Linked DNA regions of Homo sapiens: region 1 is linked to region 2. Evidence: fine-mapped expression QTL. A gene starts in region 2. The other region holds a variant in brackets. All regions are shown on one strand. Distances are between the middles of the regions. Region 1 overlaps SAFB2 (scaffold attachment factor B2). Region 2 holds the start of TICAM1 (TIR domain containing adaptor molecule 1).

Evidence for each region.
Region 1: its variant is fine-mapped to the expression of TICAM1 in left ventricle (GTEx, PIP 0.97).

The regions. Positions count from the first base shown.
Region 1 is chr19:5,604,897-5,617,060 of GRCh38, reverse strand. SAFB2 (scaffold attachment factor B2) reads left to right here. Exons shown (of 21, transcript NM_014649.3): 3 at 575-639; 4 at 726-929; 5 at 3,534-3,596; 6 at 4,494-4,521; 7 at 5,431-5,941; 8 at 6,373-6,422; 9 at 6,966-7,066; 10 at 12,125-12,164. Among named protein-coding and RNA genes, the nearest start is that of SAFB2, 12 kb to the left of the region's middle. RefSeq lists enhancers at 1-79, 4,052-5,251. The variant G/A (reference allele first, on the strand shown) is at 4,951.
Region 2 is chr19:4,824,541-4,836,704 of GRCh38, reverse strand. TICAM1 (TIR domain containing adaptor molecule 1) reads left to right here and starts at 4,993. Exons shown (of 2, transcript NM_182919.4): 1 at 4,993-5,091. RefSeq lists silencers at 4,857-5,146, 5,157-5,276.

The sequences.
Region 1 (12,164 bases), 780 kb before region 2:
GAAATATTTGGAAACTTTTAGATATTTTGTGGAAAATCAGAGTACTCTGAATCTAAGAGGAATCCTAGATTTTCATCTCCCTGTTGATGGCTTACTTAGAACACCAATTGAGGCCGGGCACCATGGCTCATGCCTGTAATCCCAGCACTTTGGGAGACCGAGGCTGGTGGATCACGAGGTCAGGAGTTTGAGACCAGCCTGGCCAATATGGTGAAACCCCATCTCTACTAAAAATACAAAAATAAGCTGGGCATGGTGATGCACGCCTGTAGTCCCAGCTGCTGAGGAGGCTGAGGCAGGAGAATCGCTTGAACCCAGGAGGTGGAGATTGCAGTGAGCCGAGATTGTGCCGCTGCACTCCAGCCTGGGTGACACAGGGAGACTCCATCTCAAAAAAAAAAAAAAAAAAAAAAAAAAGAAAACAAATTGAGACAAAATTACGTGTGACAGGAGAGGGGAGACTTATAGTTTATCTTGTAATGTGTTCTGTTCTAAGATTGAAATCTATTCTGCATAAACTAATTATGAGGTAGAACTTGAGTGTTATCTGATTGAACAATTATTCTGTAATTAGGACTGAAGATGGAGGAGGAAGGCACAGAAGATAATGGCCTGGAAGACGATTCCAGAGACGGGCAGGTAAGTGATGTCAGGGTAGAGATGACAAGCAGCAGCTCCCTGTCCTGGTCCAGGTGGTCGTTAACGATTCTTCTTCCTCTTTACAGGAGGACATGGAAGCAAGTCTGGAGAACCTGCAGAATATGGGCATGATGGACATGAGTGTGCTAGACGAAACTGAAGTGGCGAATAGCAGTGCTCCAGATTTTGGGGAGGATGGCACGGACGGCCTTCTCGATTCCTTTTGTGATAGTAAAGAATACGTGGCTGCACAGCTGAGACAGCTCCCGGCTCAGCCCCCAGAGCATGCTGTAGGTAACTTGGAGACACGGCAGGATGTGCCCATAGCCCCGAGGCACCTGGTGCTCGCGTGCTGCTCGTGTGAGGGAGAACACAGCTAAACCGCCATGAACACACAGTTCTGCTTCTACACCCTGGTGTTAAACCATGTCCATTTAAACGCTGTGTAGCTCAGGGATTTACTCATAGATAGCTTTTCTGTAGCACTGGGGAGTGTTTTTATAATTCGAAGCATGTGGTGAGTCATAAAATAGAAAGCTCTGACATAAAAGATTTTTCTTTTCTGAGATGAGGTCTCAACTGTTACCCAGGCCGGTCTTGAACTCTTGGGCTCCAGCGATCCTCCTGACTACCTGGGCTTATTGGCACAGGCCACAGTGCCCATTTAGTTTTTTCCTTTTAAAATACAGTTTTAAGAAGCAAAGATGGTTTATTTATTTAGAGACAGGGTCTTGCTCTGTTGTGCAGGCTGGAGTGCAGTGGGGTCATCATAATTCACTGCAGCCTCAGCCTCCCAGGTTCAAGCAATCCCCCTGCATAACTGAGACTACACAGTGAACCACCACGCCCAGCTAATTAAAAAAAAATTTTTTTTTTTTTAGAGGCGGGATCTCACTAGGTTACCCAGGTTGATCTTGAACCCCTGAGCTCAAGCAATCCTCCCGCCTCAGCCTCCCAGAGTGCTGGGATTATAGGTGTGGTCCACCGTGCCCAGCTCAAAAATGGTTTCTAATCTCATCATGTAGATATTCCTCCTAATGTTGTGTTTTGTTTGTTTGTTTGTTTTTGAGACAGAGTCTCTCTCAGTCACCCAGGCTGGAGTGCAGTGGCAAGATTATGGCTCACTGCAACCTCCGCCTCCCTGATTCAAGCAATTCTCCTGCCTCAGCCTCCTGAGGAGCTGGGACCAGAGGCATGCGCCACCACGCCCAGCTGATTTTTTTATATTTTTAGTAGAGATGGGGTTTCACCATGTTGGCCATGATGGTCTCCATCTCCTGACGTCGTGATCTGCCCGCCTTGGCCTCCCAAAGTGCTGGGATTACAGGCTTGAGCCACTGCGCCCAGCCACTTGACTAATTTTTTATATTTTTGGTAGAGATAGGGTTTCATCATGTTGGCTGAGCTGGTCTCGAACTCCTGACCTCAAGTGATCTGCCTGCCTCGGCCTCCCAAAGTGCTGGGATTATAGTGGTGAGTCACCACGCCTAGCCTGTTAATGTTGTTTTAAGCAAGGTTAAGCAGTTACATTAAAAGATGTAAAGTACAGTGAAGACAAGTATCAACCCTGCTCCCCAAAAGGACTGACTGTGAGCATCCTTGTATGTAAAGGAGGAACTTTGCTCTGTTAGGGCTTTCCCAGCTTTTCACTTCTAGTGTTTTGGCGTAGAGCTCTCTGGTGAGGCTGTTCAAATATCACAAGCTGTCAGTGTCTTCGAGCTGATCTTCATTGTACTCTGACTGATGTCACGTGCCCAGTAGGTTGTTTTGTTTCCTTAAGGCATTGCAGCTTTCAGCTTGGGGGTGGAAATGCCTCCATAGGACTGAACCTTAAACCTTACGGTCAAAAGTCATTGCCTCCAAATTTACCATCCTTTGACCTAGGGCAGCACTGAGCAACTGGTTAGCCGCCTTTCTCAGTCTGGTACTGCTGTGTGCTTATTGTTTTCAGAGTGTGTACTTCTCAGTTAATGGAGGCATCCCAGGTCATGAGTTCAAATCGAGAAAAGGAAAAAAGAAAATATTTGGGAGTGCTGTTTTTGTAGTTCACTTAAAAAGAGCTTCAGATTTAGTAAAACTTGGTGTTAACAGTTTTTCTTTTGTTTGGCATGTAGTAAAGAGAGAAATTGACCAAGTTAGATGTTTGTTTTTAATAAAGTAGGCTAGGCGGGCCAGGCGCGGTGGCTCACACCTGTAATCCCAACACTCCGGGAGGCTGAGGTGGGCGGATCACCTGAGGTCAGGAGTTCAAGACCAGCCTGGACATGGTGAAACCCCGTCTCTACTAAAACATACAAAAAATTAGCCGGGCGTGGTGGTGCATGCCTGTAATCCTAGCTCCTCGGGAGGCTGAGGCAGGAGAATTGCTTGAACCCAGGAGGTGGAGGTTGCAATGAGCCGAGATGGCGCCATTGCACTCCAGCCTGGGCAAAAGGAGTGACACTCCGTCTCAAATGAATGAGTGAATGAATGAATGAATAAAGTAGGCTAGGAGAAAGTGCCCGGTTAGTGTTACCTTAAGAGTATTGCTACCAGGTGAAATTGGAGGGGTGCATTTTATCATTTTGAGTTCTGCTTTGGAAATCCTGTGATTGGAGGGGTATGTGGTAATCACCAGTACTTAGAAACTGCCTGGGAAATTCATTCGTTCATTCACCCAGTACAGACAGGGCATACCCACCTGCAGGCCACTGCCAGAGACGCTGGTGGAGCAGAGTCGTGGAGTGTGTGTTCTGGCGGAGAGGCAGGTGCTGAACTGAATGACCCAACAGTAGACTTGCAGATGGCAAAAGGTGCCGTGAGGGAAATAGACACACAAGTTGCCTAAGCGAGGTGTCAGCCTTGGTTTTCATAGCTCCAGCCTCCACGAAGTCATCTTCCATTTTGTTTTTCAGGTGGATGGGGAAGGATTTAAGAACACTTTGGAAACTTCATCGTTGAACTTCAAAGTAACTCCGGTAAGTTACCATCTGGTTCTGCATCGCTGGAAATGTTAATCGAGTGGTTGATTTTCCATAATGAAAGAGCAGTGTGTATGTGTATGGAAATGACTGGATACTGTGCTGGATGCTGGGGTTAAGAGGTTAGCAGAAGAGAAACAGTCTCAGGGCTGGCCATCTAGCAGGGGCAGTGGGATCAAACCAAATATGTAACCAGAAGGGAGAAAGAAGTGTGATGAGGGAGCAGTTCTGGTGGTTGGACTTCATAAGTGCCTGGAACTCTTCCCAGAGGTCTGACGGATAGGTTGAAGAGGGAAAGAAGAATTTGGAGCAGAAAGTTTGGGTGGTGTCTCTGATGCAAAAGAGAGAGGGGAGCACACAGGGTTGGATAGAAGCCAGAGGTGTTGCAGAGCAGCTGGGCCCGCCTCGCTGAGTCTGGGCCACCAGAAGGATTGGACCTATTGTCCTAAGTGAGACAGATGTCGGAAAAGGTTTTCAGCAGAGTAGAGAGATCATTTTGTTATGACAGGTTTCAGTTACAAATCAGTTTATGTTGGGAGAAGTATTTTTTTCTTAAATCCACTGTGACCTCTTCTCTGACAAAGGGGGTGTTTGCCAGCTGCAGCAGCCACTAGGTCAGCTTGGTCATGGGGTGGGTGGCATGGCAGGGCAGGGCCCAAACTCGGGAGAATGGGACAGACTGTTATCACTAGGGACCTGCTGTTACCAGGGAAACTGTTAAAATGAGCTGGTTTTCATCAGGTTATTGTAGGATGGAATACATTTTTTGGAGACAAGAAAGTTTTGTGGAAACAGGCATTTATTCACAGATGATTGAAAGCCATATTTACTGGTGAAATGTATGTGCCCCGTGTTTAAAGTGACTTGTGGATTTGCTTTTTCTTTTTTAAATAGGACATTGAAGAATCCCTTTTGGAGCCAGGTACTGATAAGAGAAACACGACAGTTATGGTTTGAAAGTTTTCACACTATTATTTTAAAGCTGTCTATATTTTAAGCTGTGTTATGATCTTGTAAATTGCTCTAATGGTGGACAATCCAGATCATACAAGGATCAGAGATTGGAAACCCATTCGTATCACCAGATCTGTGGAAGAGCCATTCTGGCTTCTTGAGGTCAAATACATTTGGTGCAATGTAGTAGTGATTCTTTTCATGTCTAACCACGTAGAGTGGCATTTAATTCCCCCGTCCCCGTGATTCCTCCATGTGTTTCTACACATGAAACAGATCTTGTGATATTTTGCTGCAGTCATTTTGATTAACGCAGTTAAGGCAGGATAAAGCTGTTGTCAGGGCACTTACCACCTGAGAAGTGACTGGATTCCAGAAGAGGAAACAGAGTTTCTCC[G/A]TGAAAATTTTCAACATATTATTCCCCTTCCGGACTGCGTTTATCTCCCACCGTCAGAAGAGATTCTGATTTTCATATTGGATTGTTCTGTTAAAAGAAATTCAAAGAAATTTGGAAGTTGAGCTGTCATTGAATGGTGATTGCATTCGGTTCAGCACCTTGGACATTGGAAAATCAGTCAGAAGACCCAGACTTGAACAAAAACTCGAAGAAGACTATTGAGAACCAGCCGCGTGGTTGTAGGTGTTTAAATCTGTGGGGGCCTTTTCTCTTCCGTGTAGCGTAGAGGCTTACCTAGAGGCGGTCGCGGCGCAGGTAGTGTAACCAGTATAACTTTGTGTACCCGCGGGTTTTCCAATCTCTGTGTAGCTAGCAGTTCTCTTCGTGTTAGTGTGGCAGCCGTGCCAGTTCCACATTTGTGATTGCTTTATTTCCCTGGTAATTAAACCTTGTGCCATTCTATTCCTGTTAAATCCGTAGAAAATGAGAAAATACTCGACATTTTGGGGGAAACTTGTAAATCTGAGCCAGTAAAAGAAGAAAGTTCCGAGCTGGAGCAGCCATTTGCACAGGACACAAGTAGCGTGGGGCCAGACAGAAAGCTTGCGGAGGAAGAGGACCTATTTGACAGCGCCCATCCGGAAGAGGGTGATTTAGATTTGGCCAGCGAGTCAACAGCACACGCTCAGTCGAGCAAGGCAGACAGCCTGTTAGCGGTAGTGAAAAGGGAGCCCGCGGAGCAGCCAGGCGATGGCGAGAGGACGGACTGTGAGCCTGTAGGGCTAGAGCCGGCAGTTGAGCAGAGTAGTGCGGCCTCCGAGCTCGCGGAGGCCTCTAGCGAGGAGCTCGCAGAAGCACCCACGGAAGCCCCAAGCCCAGAAGCCAGAGATAGCAAAGAAGACGGGAGGAAGTTTGATTTTGACGCTTGTAATGAAGTCCCTCCGGCTCCTAAAGAGTCCTCAACCAGTGAGGGCGCTGATCAGAAAATGAGGTTTGTTTTTTCTCAGTTTTAGACCAGACGCTATCTCCTTTTCATTGGTCATGTAATGACACACATAAGCTGTTTTTTTCTGCAATTGGCCAGCCAGACTGACGAAATTGTAGTTTTGCTTCTAAAGAATGTTTCGTTTCTCTTTGTGTGTTTTTAATGGGTGATTCAATTCCTTTTCTTTTTCTCAACCTACCATGGTTGTGTTCTTAAATTGTTAATTGTTATCTTCAGCTAAATCGAATTGACTTTTACAAATCTGACATTGTATTTTTGGGGTCAGATTTTCCAATATAAGCTTGCAGAGGTGTCTGTTAAAATTTTATTTCAGACTAATTTTCTGGTAGGTATTCAGTTTTAGCACATAATCATATTTTTAGTTTTGTTCTCTTTCGTTTTTTTCCTGTATGAGTAACATTAACTTTTGTCTCTAGCTCTTTTAAGGAAGAAAAAGATATAAAGCCAATCATTAAAGATGAAAAAGGTATGATTTAATTTAACGTGGTAGGGAGCCAGGTATGGTTCCCTTATTTTGGGAGGAGGGGCCTGGAGATATACACACTTTGGATTCAGTAATTTGTTTTGTTATGGGTTACCGGAATCAACCACCTAATGGTTTCTTGAGAGACTAGTTTTAGAAGTTCGCAAGCACCTGCATTTTATGTTTCTCTTGTGGTTGTCATCTATGGGATGGTGAAAAGCACATTACAAGAAAGGAATAATTCTGCTCATTGAAGACTGTTTCAAGGATTTTAGAGACTGCCGTCTTGGATGAGATCTGATCATCAAAAGACATTTCAGTTCATAACTGACATGGGCATGATTATTCCTTGAGTAAGGAAACTCAGTTTTTGCTGTCCAGATTTTCAGCCTTCTGTGTGTTGGCATGTGTGTGTGCGTTAAATTCTTAAGTCAGCAGTTGGGATTGGGCGTCGTTAGGGTTTTTAAAGAGGGCTGCGGTCTTAAGAATGGTTGTGCTTCCTGTTAGGCCTTGGGGTGATGCCTAAGAATCTCCCTCTCGTGCCAGGTCGGGTCGGCAGCGGTTCTGGTCGGAACCTGTGGGTCAGCGGGCTGTCCTCCACAACACGCGCTACGGATCTCAAGAACCTTTTCAGCAAGTATGGGAAGGTATGCCTTCCCTTGCCTCATACCATCCACTGTGATTCAGAGTTAAAAAGGAAGCTCTGCTGGGCACGGTGGTTCACGTCTATAATCCCAGCAGTTTGGGAGGCTGAGGCAGGAGGATTGCTTGAGCCCAGGAGTTCAAGACCAGCCTGGGCAACATAGCAAGATGTTGTGTTTACTAAAAAATGGAACGACAGCAGCGAAGCTCGCCCAGTCTTGTGCAGTGCACCTTGTTTCCTGACTCACAGTAACTAGGGTGCGGAGCAGGGCAGGTGGTTGGTCATATCACAACAGTGCTCAGAACAGCTGTATAAACAGCTTCTCTCTCAATGTTCTTGGGGTTCTTTCTAACTGGTCTCAAAGAGACTGGTGGTCTTTTGTCTTGTGCAAAACTTAAAGCTTACATGATGAGATTTTTCCCTTAAGAATAATTTGGGAGGCCGAGGCGGGCGTATCACCTAAAGTCAGGAGTTGGAGACCAGCCTGGCCAACATGGCGAAACCCTGTCTCTGCTAAAAATACAAAAATCAGCCAGCCGTGGTGTTCTGTGCCTGTAGTCGCAGCTACTCGGGAAGCTGAGGTGGGAGAATCACTTGAACCCAGGAGGCAGAGGTTGCAGTGAGCCAAGATTGTGCCACTGCACTCCAGCCTGGGTAACAGAGCGAGACTATGTCATAAAAAAAAAAAAAAAAAAAAAGAATGAAGTGAATAATTGACTTTCATATCATTTAGCATTTTAAGTATATAGTCTCATAACTAGAACATGATCGTGGTTCAAAAATAAATCACTAAGATGCTGCTCATGGGGGTGGGAGAAAAATAGTACAATTCAGCAGCTTTCCAAAGGAAGGTGAGGACAATTTAAAATGATTCCACTGTTTGAAATTAATTAAGAGTCTTCTTTTTTTGTTTGTTTGTTGTTCTTTTTTTTTTTTTTTTTTTTTTTGAGACTGCGTCTCGCTCTGTTGCCCAGGCTGAAGTGCAGTGGTGTGATCTTGGCTCACTGCAGCCTCCGCCTCCCTCCCAGGTTCAAGTGATTCTCGTGCCTTAGCTTCTCGAGTAGCTGGGATTACAGGCACCCACCACCATGCCTGGCTAATTTTTGTATTTTCAGTAGAGATGGGGTTTCGCCATGTTGGCCAGACTGGTCTCCAACTCCTGACCTATGTGATCTGCCTGCTTGGCCTCCCAAAATGCTGGGATTACAGGCGTGAGCCACCGCGCCTAGCCAAGAGTCTTCTGGTAAGCAATTGGCACTGCCCTGGTCTCCTGGGTGCCTCTGGGGAGTGGCTTCCAAGGGACAAGGTTCGGACCATTTAGTGTCTGGAGGGTGCCCTGATTCCAGGCAGAGTGGGCCCTGTCTGACACAGTTTTCTGGCTACAGAAGCCGTTCCTTTGTCTAGGTCTGTGTCACCCGATCAGGTGTTGGTTAATGTTTCATTGCTTAAGAAGCGGACAGGACCCGGAGAAAGCGTGCTGTTCAATTTTTCTCTGAACAGTCTGTGTGTTCAGCAAGGGCTTAGGAAATTCTTATAGCCATGAATAACCTGTTTATTCAGTTACTTTGTTGACTTCACTCGGACACTGATGATTAAGCAGAGGTAAACATACGTGGTCACTGTCATCACAGATTTTTTAGTCTGGCGGGAAAAAGACCATTTAAGAAATAAACACATATGATGTGTTGTGATGAGCGTATTAAGGAATATTAGAGCACGCCGTCAGTGTGTTGGGGAGGCCGTGTTTAGATTTGGGAGGCAGCTTCAGCAGAGCTCGCTGAAGAAGTGACATTCAGCTGAGGCGTGAGTGACAGAGTTGGCCTTACCTGTGGGGCTCAGCTCTGGACAAAAACAGAAGGACGTAGGAAGGCCAGAGGGGCAGGACACCACTCAGCTACTTGACTGAAGTATGCAGAGCCTCCAGGGCGGATGGCATAGCTCAGGGATAGGGACATACAAGCTTAGTATGGTGCCTGCTCTCATTTGGGTTTTGTCTGTCATCAGAAGAGATATACTTGTAAGGATGATTAATTTGATGGGAAGGTAGAATGGGAAGTGGCATCTGTGTTTCTCTCAGGAGAGTCTTCTGTCCCTTTGGCCCTGGACAGATTCAGGCAGAGCCTTGACTCCTCCATTTGTGTGGTCAAAACCAAGGACGTCAGATGGGAACCTCAAGCTTGTGGGTTCCACCTTGTCATTTCACAGTTGGGGCCATGAGGTCCAGAGACGGGGAATGCCTTGCTTAGGTTGATGCCCTGAGTCAGAGATAGGGCAGAGACCAGGACTCCTGTGTCCCGGGGAAATGTTTACTCTGCGCGCCAGTGGTGGTGGGCTTGGCGTTAGATCTACTGTCTTGTTCTCTATTTTCTGTTCATGTTTGTTTATTGATCTCTTTTTCCCATTTATCTGCCTTCTTGTGGGTCGAGTCCTTTTTATGACTGATGGCTTATTTGCTCTAACTCTGTGTCATTGTGGTTTACTGTAGGATTACAGTACACATCTTCCCTTACAGTCTGTCTGCAAGGGGTGCTCTGTTGGTTTCAGCGTAGTGCAAGAACTCTGTGGGAATATACTTGCATTTCCCCTCCCGTCGATCTTTGTGATGTTATTGTCATACGGTTTACTTCTCTTTAAGAAGTCACCCAATATTTTATTGGCTTTGACTTGTTGTGGTTTGGCTTTTTTGCTTTGAACAGTTGTGTTTTTTTTTGTTTTTGTTTTTGTTTTTGTTTGTTTTTGAGACGGAGTCTCGCTCTGTCGCCTAGGCTGGAGTGCAGTGGCGCGATCTCGGCTCACTGCAAGCTCTGCCTCCTGGGTTCATGCCATTCTCCTGCCTCAGCCTCCCAAGTAGCTGGAACTACAGGTGCCCGCCACCAGGCCTGGCTAATTTTTTGTATTTTAAGTAGAGATGGGGTTTCACTGTGTTAGTCAGGATGGTCTTGATCTCCTGACCTCGTGATCCTCCCACCTCGGCCTCCCAAAGTGCTGAGATTACAGGCGTGAGCCACCACGCCCAGCCAAACAGTTATATTTTAAAGAGACCCAGAAATGACAGGAAAAAATCATGTTCACCTCACCAGGTGCTCTTCGTTGCTTTTTGTTGTATATCCAAGTTCCCATCGGAGATCATCTTCCTCCCTCCTGAAGGAATTGAATGTTTCCTGTAGTGCAGGTTTGCTGGTGATACGTTCTTGTTTCTTTTGCATGTCAGAAAAAGTCTTTACTTTGTCTTCATTTTGAAATAAATTTTCACTGGGTATAGAATTCTAGGTTAATTTAATCTTTGTTCCTTCAGTTACCAATTTGTGTCTTTTCTCTCTCTTTTTCTGTGGCTGCTTTTAAGTTTCTTCTGGTTTTTTTGTTTTGTTTTGTTTTCCCTTAGAGACAGGATCTCACTGTGTCACCCAGGCTGGAGTACAGTGGTGCTCACTGCAGCCTCGAGCTCCCGGGCTCAAGCGATCCTCTCACCTCAGCCTCCTGAGTAGCTGAGACCACAGGCATGTACCACTACACCCAGCTAATTTTTAAAATTTTTGGTACAGATGTGGTTTCTCTGTGTTGCCCAGGCTGGTTTTGAACACCTGGCCTCAAGTGATCTACCTGCCTTGGCCTCACAAAGTGCTGGGATTACAGGCATGAGCCACTGTGCCCAGCCTGTGCCTGGTAATTTTTTACTGGATGTTGTGAATTGTATTTTTTGGGTGCTAGTTATACTTGTATCTCTACAAATACCCTTGAGCTTTTTTCTGGGACACAGCTGAGGTACTGGACACACACTAAGGCAGGGCCAAAGTAGCCTTCAGTTTGGGCTGATTTTGTCTCACCACTGGGCAGTGCCCTCTGAGTAGTGGGTCTGATGGCCCGTGAATTACCAGCCTTTCCACCCTGGCTATTGGGAAGAGCAAACCATTTGTGGCCCTGAGTGCCCCTCCAGTGGTTGTTCCCTCTGCTCCTGATTGTTCCCTCTGCTCCTTATGGGTGGTGCTGTCCCAGCCTCTGGTTTCCTCGCACACGTGTGCACTGGGTGGGAGGAACCCTCTGTGGGTCTCTTCAGCTTGCTCTGCGTGGCTCTGTGTGGCTGTGTCCTCTCTGATACTCAGTTCCGTGATTTCTCTCTGTCTTGGTCTCAGAATCTCAGTGCTGTCTTACCCATCCCCCATTGCCTGGGAATCTAGGCAGTGAGCAGGGGCAGTCAGGGAGCTCTCAGGGATTGTTGTCTTGGGCAGCCTGATGTCCAGGATCTGAAAACTGTCGTTGCCTACGTTTCATCACATTTGTTAGTTGTTTCAGGCAGGAAGACAATGCTTAGTTCTCCCATCTCAGCCAGAAGTGGAAGTCCTTTCCCCATGGGGACATTTCTGACAGTCCATGTCTGTGTCAGAGCTCTTCTCAGGCCCAGCTGGAGTGGATGGGTGCATTTCTTAGTAGCCCCACAGCTGTTTGTGGGCACAGTGGAAATAGAGAAAACAATGTGGATGGGTAGGACTTCTGGTTATTAGTTGTGAGTAATGAAGTTTAATGGTTTTATAACCTTGCATGTTTGTGTGTTTTCCTTGTGATGACTTATCTTGTATTAAAAGCAGTTGTATTTAGTGGCTGGGTGCGGTGTCTCATGCCTGTAATCCCAGCACTTTGGGAGGCCGACTTGGGTAGATCACTTGAGGTCAGGAGTTGGAGACCAGCCTGGCCAACATGGAGAAACCCCATCTCTACTAAAAACACAAAAATTAGCCAGGCGTGGTGGCGGGCGCCTGTAATCCCAGCTACTTCGGAGGCTGAGGCGGGAGAATTGCTTGAACCCAGGAGGCGGAGGTCGCGGTGAGCCGAGATCGCGACACTGCACTCCAGCCTGGGTGACAGAGCGAAACTGTCTCAAAAAAAAAAAAAGCAATTGTATTTGGATAGGTCAGGATTAATTAGAACCAATTCAGTAACTAAAATGGAAAACTACCATATGGGGAGAGGTGACAAATAGTGAAAATGATTCTGATTGCCAGGTAATAACTTTAGCAAGTTGTGTGGTCATTTGTATGAGAGAGTAAGAGTGCCCTTTTTCATGAAGGTTGTCGGGGCCAAAGTGGTAACGAACGCCCGCAGCCCGG
Region 2 (12,164 bases):
CTCCTGGGCTCAAGCGACCTCCCACTCAACCTCCCAAAGCACTGGGATTACAGGTGAGAGTCACTGCACCTGGCTCTCACCCGATCTTTTTCCCAATCCCATCAGATAGATGCTATTATCTCCAGGGAAAATGAGGTGTAATCCAGAGAGCCCACCCTCAGCCCCACCTCAGCTACTAATAGCTGAGTAGTAATTTGAACTCAGGCCAGGCATGGTGCCTCACGCCTGTAATCTCAGCACTTTGGGAGGCCAAGGTGGGCAGGTCACTTGAGGTCAGGAGTTCGAGACCAGGCTGGCCAACATGGTGAAATCCCCCTCTCTATTAAAAATACAAAAATTAGCTGGGTGTGGTGGCACACACCTGTAATCCCAGCTACTGGGGAGTCTGAGGCACAAGAATCACTTAGCCCAGGATGCAAAGGTTGCAGTGAACCAAGATCACGCCACTGCACTCCAGCCTGGGCAACAGAGCGAGACTCTGTCTCAAAAAAAAAAAAAAAATTGGACTCAAAGAGTCAAGTTCTCTCCACGGTGCTTATAACCACCACATTTTAAGGTAGCAATGCCTGTTTTGGAATATCATACATGACACATATGTTGACTTGTGAAAGTGTCAAAGATATATTGACAATGGAATACAGTAAATTTTTTTTTTTTTGAGACGGAGTCTCGCTCTGTAGCCCAGGCTGGAGTGCAGTGGCGCGATCTCAGCTCACTGCAAGCCGCACCACCTCACAGGTTCACACCATTCTCCTGCCTCAGCCTCCTGAGTAACTGGGACTTCAGGCACCTGCCACCATGCCCGGCTAATTTTTTGTACTTTTAGTAGAGACGGGGTTTCACCGCTTTAGCCAGGATGGTTTCGATCTCCTGACACTGTGATCCGCCCGCCTCGGCCTCCCAAAGTGCTGGGATTATAGGCGTGAACCACCACGCCCAGCCGAAAGTATTTATTGTCTGGTCCTTTACAACAAACAGTTTGCTGAACTCTGGCCTATGCGAATTAAAAAGGAAAATCAGATCGAAGAATATTCAGTATCATGATCACGGATCTGTGGATATGTGTGCAAAAGTGGAAAACAGAGGCCGGGCATGGTGGCTCATGCCTGTAATCCCAGCACTTTGGGAGGCTGAGGCAGGCAGATCACTTGAGGCCAGGAGTTCGAGACCAGCCTGGCCAACATGGTGAAACCCCATCTCTACTAAAAATACAAAAATTAGCTGGGCGTGGTGGCGCACAGCTGTAATCCCAGCTATTCAGGAGGCTGAAGTAGGAGAATCGCTTGAACCCAGGAGGAGGAGGTTGCAGTGAGCCAAGATCGTGCCACTGCACTCCAGCCTGGGCGACAGAGCGAGACTCTGACTCCAAAAAGAAAAAAAAAAAAGTGGAAAACAGAATGGATGGGCTTGTGGGTGGAGGCTTCTAGGGGAGGTGGTGGAGAGGGAAAGTAAAAAAAAAACTTGGACTTTTACTGGAATATTATCTTTCTTTCTTTTTTTTTTTTATATTTTTTCTTTGAGATAGGGTTTCTCTCTGTTGCCCAGGCTGGAGTGCAGTGGTGCGATCATAGCTCACTACAGTCTCAACCTCTTGGGCTCTGGTGGTCCTCCCATCTCAGCCTCCCAGGTAGCTGGGACTACAGGCACGTGCTGCCATGCCTCATTTTTTCTTTCTTTCTTTTTTTTTTTTTTTTTGAGATGGAGTCTCGCTGTGTCGCCCAGGCTGGAGTTCAGTGGCGTGATCTCGGCTCTCTGCAAGCTCCACCTCCCGGGTTCATACCATTCTCCTGCCTCAGCCTCCTGAGTAGCTGGGACTACAGGTGCCCGCCACCACGCCCGGCTAATTTTTTTGTATTTTTAGTAGAGACAGGGGTTTCACCGTGTTAGCCAGGATGGTCTTGATCTCCTGACCTCATGATCCACCTGCCTCGGCCTCCCAAAGTGCTGGGATTGCAGGCGTGAGCCACTGCACCCGGCCCTCATTTTTTCTTTATTTTTAATTTTTGTAGAGATGGGATCTCACTGTGTTGCCAGGGCTAGTCTTGAACGCCTGGGCTCAAGCAATCCTCCCGCCTCAGCCTCCCAAAGTGCTAGGATTACAGGCATGAGCCACCGCACCCGGCCTGTTTCTTTCACTGAAGAAGAGAGGGGGCAACTGCACCTCTCTGCAAGTGGCCAAATTCACCCATCTGCAGCCCTGGAATTCTGAATTCTTCAGCCATTACCTTCTCTGAGCCTGTTCTCTCATCTGTAAAATGGGAACCATCAAACCCATTTTGATGGAGAAACGGTTGTTTTAAGACATTGATCAAGCCAGGCATGGTGGCTCACGCCTGTAATTCCAACACCTTGGGAAGCCAAGGCAGGAGGATTGCTTGAGGCCAGGAGTTTGAAACCAGCCTGGTCAACATAGAAAGACATCATCTCTACAAAAGAAAAAAAAAATTACATTAGCCAGGCATGGTGGCATGCACCTGCAGTCCCAGCTACTTGGGAGGCTGAGGTGGGAGGATCGCTTGAGACCAGGAGGTCAAGGCTACAGTGATTAGTGATCACACCACTACACTCCAGCCTGGGTGGCAGATTAAGACCCTGTCTCAAAAAAAAAAAAAAAAAAAAAAAAAGGACATTGATCAGTTGACCAGCAAAGCCCAGTCACGGTGATTCATGTCTGTAATCCCACCACTTTGGGAGGCCAAATTGGGACAATCTCTTAAAGCTAGGAGTCGGGGACCAGTCTGGGTAACATAGTGAGACCCTGTCTCTAAAAGAAAAATGTAAAAAATAATTCAACACAGTGTTGCGTGCCTGTAGTCCCAGCTACTTGGGAGGCTCAGGCAGGAGGATCGCTTGAGGCCCAGAATTGGAGGCTGCTTTGAGCTATGATGGCGCCACTCCACTCCGGCCTGTGCGACAGAGTGAAATCCCATCTCTAAAAAAAAAAAAAAAGCCGGGTGCAGTGGCTCACGCCTGTAATCCCAGCACTTTGGGAGGCTGAGCGGGTGGATCACGAGGTTAAGAGATCGAGACCATCCTTGCCAACATGGTGAAACTCCATCTCTACTAAAAATACAAAAATTAGCCAGGCATGGGGGCATGCACCTGTAGTCCCAGCTACTCGGGAGGCTGAGGCAGGAGGATCGCTTGAACCCGGGAGGCTGAGGTTGCAGTGAGCCGAGATTGCACCACTGCACTCCAGCCTGGTGACTGAGTGAGATTCTGTCTCAAAAAAAAAAAAAAAAAAAAAGTCTGGGCACAGTTTTGCATGGGTACAAGCACCTATGAGACACTCCTTGAATTGGTAATTTTGGGGTGGGAGACAGAGAGGCCAGGAGGATGTGTTTAACTTTCTCTCCCCCACCAGCCCTGGAGACCCTGAAGGGTAAGACCATTTCTGTCTTCCCCGCTACTGTATTCCCAGAGCCTAGACGTTCCTGGAACACAGTCAGTGCTCAATAAAATTTCTCCCTCACTGGAGAGAAGTACTCAATAAGGGGAACTGTGGGGGATTTGACATCAACATAACTTCCATTGCTATCTCCCTACAAGAACTTTTAGGTGAACTTCAGCCTGGGGTCCCTGAGCCTCTTAGGGGTGTTCAGGGTGTCTGTGAATTCTGATGGAGGAAAAAAATTTCACATCTTTATTTTCACTGACTCTAACTGATAATTACCATTCCCTCAATTATTAATGAAGACAACCACAGGACCTGGGACTTTGTCCGTTTGTCCCTAATAAAAACCACAGATACTTTCAGATTGCATTGCAACCAGAAACACATCTGACACTTGTCACCACGGCAAAATCACTGTGATTATTAGATCTTATTTAATGTGGTGATAAAAATAATATAGGCCAGGTGCGGTGGCTCACACCTGTAATCCTAGCACTTTGAGAGGCCGAGGCGGGAGGATTGCTTGAGCCTGGAAGTTTGAAAGCAGCCTGGGTAATATAGGGAGACCCCGTTTCAAATAATAATAATTATTATAATCATAAAATTAGGCCGGGCGCAGCGGCTCACGCCTGTAATCCCAGCACTTTGGGAGGCCGAGGCGGGCAGATCACCTGAGGTCAAGAGTTCGAGACCAGCCTGGCCAACATGGTGAAACCCCATCTCAACTAAAAATACAAAAATTAGCCAGGTGTGGTGGCACGTGCCTGTAATCCCAGCTACTCAGGAGGCTGAGGCAGGAGAATCGCTTGAACCCATGAGGTGGAGGTTGCAGTGAGCCGAGGTCGCACTACCGCACTCCAGCCTAGGCCACAGAGTAAGACTCCAACTAAAAAAAAAAAAAAAAAAAAGGGAGGCCGGACACGGTGGCTCACACCTGTAATCCCAGCACTTTGGGAGGCCAAGGCAGGTGGATCACCTGAAGTTGGGAGTTCGAGACCACGCTGACCAAGGTGGAGAAACTCCATCTCTACTAAAAATACAAAATTAGCCAGGTGTGGTGGCACATGCCTGTAATCCCAGTTACTCAGGAAGCTGAGGCAGTAGAATTGCTTGGACCCGGGAGGCGGAGGTTGCAGTGAGCTGAGATTGCGCCATTGCACTCCAGCCTGGGCAACAAGAGCGAAACTCCGTCTCGGAAAATAAATAAAAAAATAAATAAACAAACAAACAAATAAAATAAGAGAAATAAAATAAAAACAGCTGCTACATTTATTTCCTGGAAAGCACCTATCACTAACGGAGATGATCCCACTTTACAATTGTGATTACTTTCTCATCTGGGACCCCCGCCCAGATGACTGTGGGCTCCCCGAGAGCAGATGCGAGTTCTTCTGGCCCCCTGCAGACAGTAGGTGCTCACACTTGCTGAACGTGACCGCAAGGGTTGGGAAGAGAGCGCATGGGTGCGGGGCGACCCGGGGACTTTCCCGGTGCTGCGGGGCAGGACTCCGAAACCGTGACCTCACGTCCCACACCCACCCGGGACGCGGAAGGGGCGGCGCGCTTCCTTCCCAGGGCGCGGGCCGCGGGGTGGAGCCAGCGCCCTCAGCGCGCTACGGTCCGCGGGCAACTCCGCAGAAGCCCCAGCCCCCAGGACCCCAGGACCCAGTGGCGCAGCCGGCAGCCCCGGATCCCTGGTAGGTGGGGAAGGGGCGAGGACGGGCCTGAGGTGGAGAAGGTGTCGGGGGTGTGGGGGGTGGCCCTGAGCCCGTGCCGCTCGCCAGGGCTCCAGGCCACCTGGCCTCCCTCTTAGGGCCCCGGTGCGGAGGAGGGGGCCTGGCGCCGCGCGTTGGGAGGTTGACGTTCCCCTCAACCTCCAGCTCCCCGCGCTGGTGGCCCAGATCCTCCCCCACTGTCGGGATCCTCCCCAGCACCCTGGCTTCCTCCCCGACAGCCTGACCCCTCCCCCAAACCCCAGATTCCTCCCGGACACCCCAGATTCCTCCCCAACACCCAGGATTCCTACCTGAAACCCCATATTCCTTCTCACCCCAAATTCCTGACACCCAAGCTTCCTACCTCACACCCCATATTTCTCTCAACGCCCTGAATTTCTCCCTGACACCCAAGGTCCCTCCCTGATACCCCAAATTCCTCCGTGACACCCAGGACCCCTCTCTGACACCCTGGATTCTTCCCCAACACCCAGGATCCCTCCCGAATACCCCAGATTCCTCCCAGACACCCCAAATTCCTCCCTGACACCCCAAACTCTTCCCTGACACCCAGGATCCCAACCTCACACCCTGTACCACCACACACCTTCTTCCTTTCTCCCCCTCCTAACGGTTATCCAGCCACATGGGCTTCCTTACTGTTCCTCCAGCTCACCAGGCGCAGTCCTGCCCCAGGGCCTTTGGGCAGGTGGCTTCACCTTCCAGAAGCTTTCCTCCCTGATCTCCACCCAGCCTCCTCCCTCAGCTCCTTTAGGTCTCAGCTCAATGTTACCTCCTGTCCCCAAAGGCCTCCCTTGACCACCGTGGTCCCCTGTAGCCCCTTCCCAGCCAGTCTCTCAGAGCCACACAGCCCCCGGCTCATGGCTTTCACGTTACTTTTCATTCTCTGAAATGATCTTGGGTTATTTTCTCGCTTACTGTTGGTCTCCCTGAACCAGACTGGGAGCTCTGTGAGGGTAGATGTGCCTGCCTTGATATGCAGTGGCACTTTGAACAGTTCCTGGACCTAGTAGGTGCTCAATAAATGCATATTCGATGCATGAAAGGCTGCATGAGAGTGTGGGAAGGAGAGTGGGAGAGGTGGTTAAAACATTTAAAAAGGACAAGGTGGGAGGATCACTTGAGCCCAGGAGTTCAAGACAAGCCTGGGCAGCATAGCGAGACTCCACCTCTACAAAAAAATTCAAAAAGAAAGTTAGCCGGGTGCAGTGGTTTATGCCTGTAATCCCAACACTTTGGGAGGCTGAGGCAGGTGGATTGCTTGAGCCCAGGATCCTGGGTAACATGGGTGAGACTCTGTCTCTACCAAAAATACAAAAATTAGCCAGGTGTGGTGCCGCACACCTGTAGTCCCAGCTACTCGGGAGGCTGAGGTGGGAGGATCACTTGAACCCGGGAGTTCAAGGCTGCAGTGAGCCGTGATCCCACTACTGCACTCCAGCCTGGGTGACAGAGTGAGACCCTGTCTCTAAAAAAAATGAAATGGGGCTGGGCAGGTGGCTCACGCCTGTAATCCCAGGCAGATCACCTGAGGTCAGGAGTTTGAGACCAGCCTGACCAACATGGCGAAACCCTGTCTCTACTAAAAATACAAAAATTAGCGGGGCGTGGTGGTGCATGCCTGTAATCCCAGCCACTCAGGAGGATGAGGCAGGAGAATCACTTGAACCCAAGAGGCGGAGGTTGCAGTGAGCCCAGACCACGCCACTGCACTCCAGCCTGGGCGACACAGCAAGACTCTGTGTCAAAAAAAAAAAAAAAAAAAAAAAGAAATGAAATTAAAAATCAAAAATTTTTTTAAAAAGGAAGAGGAAGAGAAAAAGTCTGCCAATATTTATTGTCACACTAATATTATTATATCAAGCTCTTGCTCCTTGCTGGGCACTGATCTAAACTTTTTAACCATATTTTCGCATGAAAGCTTCAAAACAGACTCCCATTCATCCTAAGTACCAGTTCATGTGGGTGTTATAAATGAGGAAGCTGAGGCTGAGAAACAGACCACACAAGCCGGCAGGTGGCAGAGCCAGAACCCTCCTACCCCATGGGTGTTTTTGTCCCGCCAGGCGCCTGCTCTTCAGAGTGAGGAGTGGACTTTGTCCCAGCCATGGACAGTGAGAAATGAAACTTGCTGGGTCTCGAGAAGGTGGAGGTGGCAGTGGGCAGGGGAGGCGGGCGGGGGAAGCTGGGGCAGTCACTGAAATAGAGTTGAGTTCAGGCCCGGGGGGGCAGAGAGAATGAGAAGAAAGACCACGTGATTTTAGAGATTTGCCAGGCATTCAGGTGGAGATGGTCCTGCCTTGATGATTCTAAGTCTGGCTGGCTTTGTCGTGTTTTCTGCAAAACTCCCCTGAGTCCTTCTTGCAAGGAGGTTTCAGTCTTGCATGCTAATGTTTGTGGGGCATGCGTGTGCCAGGCACTGCTTTAAGAGTCCTATACAGGCCGGGCGCAGTGGCTCATGCCTGTAATCCCAGCACTCTGGGAGGCCAAGGCAGGCGGATCGATTGAGGTCAGGAGTTCGAGACCAGCCTGGCCAACAGCCTGAAACCCTGTCTCTACTAAAATTACAAAAACTAGCAGGGCGTGGTGGCTAACGCCTGTAATCCCAGAATTTTGGAGGCCAAGGCAGGCGGATCACGAGATCAAGAGATTGAGACCATCCTGGCCAACATGGTGAAACCCCGTCCCTACTAAAAATACAAAAATTACCTGGGCATGGTGGCATGCACCTGTAGTCCCAGCTACTCGGGAGGGTGAGGCAGGAGAATTGCTTGAACCCAGGAGGTGGAGGTTGCAGTGAGCCGAGATCGCGCCACTGCACTCCAGCCTGGCGACAGAGGGAGATTCGGTCTCAGAAAAAAAAAAAAAAAAAGATTATCTGGGCGTGGTGGCAGGCTCCTGTAATCCCAGCTACTCAGGAGAGTGAGGCACAAGAATCACTTGAGCCCAGGATGCGGAGGCTGTAGTGAGCCTAGATCGCACCACTGCACTCCAGCCTGGGCGACAAAGTGGGACTCCGTCTCAAAAAATATATATATGTATATATATTTTACTGACATGTAGGCTGGGTGCAGTGGCTCATACCTGTAATCCCAGCACTTTGGGAGGCCAAGGTGGGAGGATCGCTTGGGCCCAGGAGTTCCAGACCCCGTCCCTACAAAACATTAATAATTAGCTGGGCATGGTGGCATGTGCCTGTAGTCCCAGCTACTTGGGAGGCTGAGTGGGAGGATCACTTCTTAATCCCAGGAGGTTGAGGCTGCAGTGAGCTATGATCACACCACTGCACTCCAGCCTGGGTAACAGAGCAAGATCCTGTCAAAAAACAACAACACAGGAGGCTGAGGCAGGAGAACGGTGGGAACCCGGGAGGCAGAACTTGTAGTGAGCCGAGATCGCGCCACTGCACTCCAGCCTGGGAGACAGACCGAGACTCCGTCTCAAAAAAAATAAAAAAAACAAAAAAGAGTGTGAATTCTAAGTGTTAAACTCAATGAATTTTCAGCATGACGCCCAGCCCCACTGCTACCCTGTCCCAGCATGGCCCTTCTCCACACTTTATCATCTATGCCCTCTTATCAGCTAAAAATTGGAGGGTACGTGCCAATGTATGTTTGCTTTTTGCTTGGTAAGTTATACACACAACCGTTCCCAGGAAACACCGGGAGGTGGGAAGAGCAGTTGATTCGTGGATCATCGAACTTAACGGGGGGTGGGGGTATTGGACCGTATTCCAAGTAGTTGTCTTGATCATTTCAAAAAGTTTTGGCCGACTTGTGGTCCCACCTGAATATAGGATCTTTTTTTTTTTTTTTTTGAGATGGAGTCTCACTCTGTCACCCAGGCTGGAGTGCAGTGGCACCAACTCGGCTCGCTGCAAGCTCCGCCTCCCAGGTTCACACCATTCTCCTGCCTCAGCCTTCCGAGTAGCTGGGAGTACAGGTGCCCGCCACCACACCTGGCTAATTTTTTGTATTTTTAGTAGAGACGGGGTTTCACCGTGTTAGCCAGCACGGTCTCGATCTCCTGACCTCGTGATCTGCCCGCCTCGGCCTCCCAAAGTGCTGCTGGGATTACAGGCGTGAGCCACCGCGCCCAGCCCATTTTCATTTTTATCCCATTTTATGTAGAGCTTACAACAGAGATAGAAGCTGGGCATCTGGCCTTTTTCTTTTTTTTTTTTTTTTTTTTTTTTTTTTTTTGGAGACAGAGTTTCACTCTTGTAGCCTAGGCTGGAGTGCAATGGCATGATCTCAGCTCACCGCAACCTCCGCCTCCCGGGTTCAACCTCCACCTCCCGGGTTCAAGCGATTCTCCTGCCTCAGCCTCCCGAATAGCTGGGATTACAGGCTTGCGCCACCATGCCCGGCTAATTTTTGTATTTTTAGTACAGACGGGGTTTCACCATGTTGGCCAGGCTAGCCTCGAACTCCTCACCTCAGGCAATCCACCCGCCTCGGCCTCTCAAAGTGCTGGGATTACAGGCGTGAGCCACTGCGCCCGGCCGTCTGGCCTTTTTCTTATTGTCCGATTGTGCCTGCATTATTTTATTATTATTATTATTATTATTTCCTAAGATTATTAGGAAAAACCTTTTATCCTCCACTTCTCTAGAGGAGTACTTAGGCCATATGCTTATTTCCTGAACATTAGTTTAATTAAAACTAGGTGAGGCTGTTTCTCAGGCCCCATAACCAGGTCCACATAAGCTGGAGTCTGTGTTAAATCTGAAAATGTTAAAAGGAGCCAAAAAGCTCAGTGGATTCTAGAACCAGACAGCCTGGGTTCCAATCCAGCTGTATCCCTTATGAGCTGTGTGACTCTGGACTACTTACTCAACTTCTCTGTACCTCTGTTTCCTTGTGTCAAAAAGGGGCCATACTCCAATATTACTGGACTGTAGTGGAGATGTCTAAAACTGTGCTGTCCAACAGAAATATAACATGAAGCAGCCGCGAACAGTGGCTCACGCCTGTAATCCCAGCACTTTGGGAGGCCGAGGCTGGCAGATCACTTGAGGTCAGGAGTTCGAGACCAGCCTGGGCAACATGGTGAAACCCCGTCTCTACTAAAAATACAAAAATTAGCCGGGTATGATGGCGGATGCCTGTAGTCCCAGCTACCCGGAAGGCTGAGGCAAGAGAATCGCTTGAACCTGGGAGGCAGAGGTTGCAGTGAGTCGAGATCATGCCATTGCACTCTAGCCTGGAAAATGGAGCAAGACTCCATCTCCAAAATATATAAATAAATAAATAAATATATATATATATCTCCTAATAATACATTTTATTAATCCAATATGTAAATGCATTTAATAATATATTTTATTTAACTCAATATACCCAACATGGTCCAATATAATGTTCCATTACGAATGAGGCATCTTCCATACCTTTTTTATTTTGTTGTTTTTGAGACAGCGTCTCACTCTATTGCCCAGGCTGGAGTGCAGTGGCGCGATCTCCGGTCACTGCAGCCTTGATTCTCCTGGCCTCAGGCGATCCTCTGACCTCAGTCTACCAAGGAGCTGGGGCCACAGGCATGCACCACCACACCCAGCTAATTATTTTTATTTTAATTTTATTTATTTATTTATTTGTTTGTTTCTTTATTTTGAGATGGAGTTTTGCTCTTGTTGCCCAGGCTGGAGTGCAATGGTGTGATCTTGGCTTACTGCAACCTCTGCCTCCTCGGTTCAAGCGATTCTCCTGTCTCAGCCTCCCGAGTAGCTGGGATTACCAGCACCTGCCACCATGCCCTGCTAATATTTTTTATTTTTAGTAGAGACAGGGTTTCACTGTGTTGGCTAGGCTGGTCTCGAACTTCTAAACTCAGGTGATCCACCTGCCTCAGCCTCCCAAAGTGCTGGGATTACAGGCGTGAGCCACCACACCCGGCCTATTTTTATTTTTTGTAGAGATGGGTCTCACTGTTGCCCAGGCTGGTCTCGAACTCTTGGGCTCAAGAGATCCTCCTACCTCAGCCCCCTAAAGTACTGGGATTATAGGCATGAGCCACTGCACCCTGCCTTAATTAATTAAAAATTAGATAAAATGCCGGCCGCGGTGGCTCACGCCTGTAATCCCAACACTTTGGGAGGCCAAGGTGGGAGGATCACTTGAGCCCAGGCAACATGGGGAGACCCAGTCTCTACAAAAATACAAAAATTAACGGGTACATATCCAGGTTTGTTATATAGCTAAATGGCATGTCACAGGGTTTGGTGTACAGATTATTCCATCACACAGGTAATAACTGTCGTACCTGATAGGTAGTTTTTTGTTGTTGTTGTTTTAAGACAGAGTCTCGCTCTGTCGCCCAGGGTGGAGTGCAGTGGCGCCATTTCAGTTCACTGCAACCTCTGCCGCCCGGGTTCCAGCAATTCTCCTCCCTCAGCCTCCCAAGCAGCTGGGATTACAGGCGCACACTGCCACACCCGGCTAATTTTTTGTATTTTAGTAGAAACGGGGTTTTACCATGTTGCGCAGGCTGGTCTCGAACTCCTGAGCTCAGGCAATCCACACACCTCGGCCTTCCAAAGTGCTAGGATTACAGGCGTGAGCCACCGCTCCCGACCCTCCTCTCCCTCCTCCTCACCACCACCCTTAAGCAGGCTCTGTTATTTTATTTTATTTTTTTTTGGAGACAGAGTCTTGCTCTGTCACCCAAGTTGGAGTGCAGTGGTGTGATCTCTGCTCACTCCAGCCTCGACTTCTTGGGTTCAGGTGATTCTCCCACCTCAGCCTCCCTAGTAGCTGGGACTACAGGCACCCGCCACCACACGTGGCTAATTTTTCTATTTTTAGTAGAGACGGGATTTCGCCATGTTGGCCAGGATGGTCTTGAACTCCTGACCTGAGGTGATCCACCTGCCTCGGCCTCCCAAAGTGCTGGGATTACAGGTGTGAGCCACTGTGCCTGGCCCTGTTGTTCCCTTCTTTGTGTCCTGCGGTGGCTCACGCCTGTAATCCCAACACTTTGGGAGGCCGAGGCAGGTGGGTCATCTGAGGTCAGGGGTTCCAGACCAGCCCGAC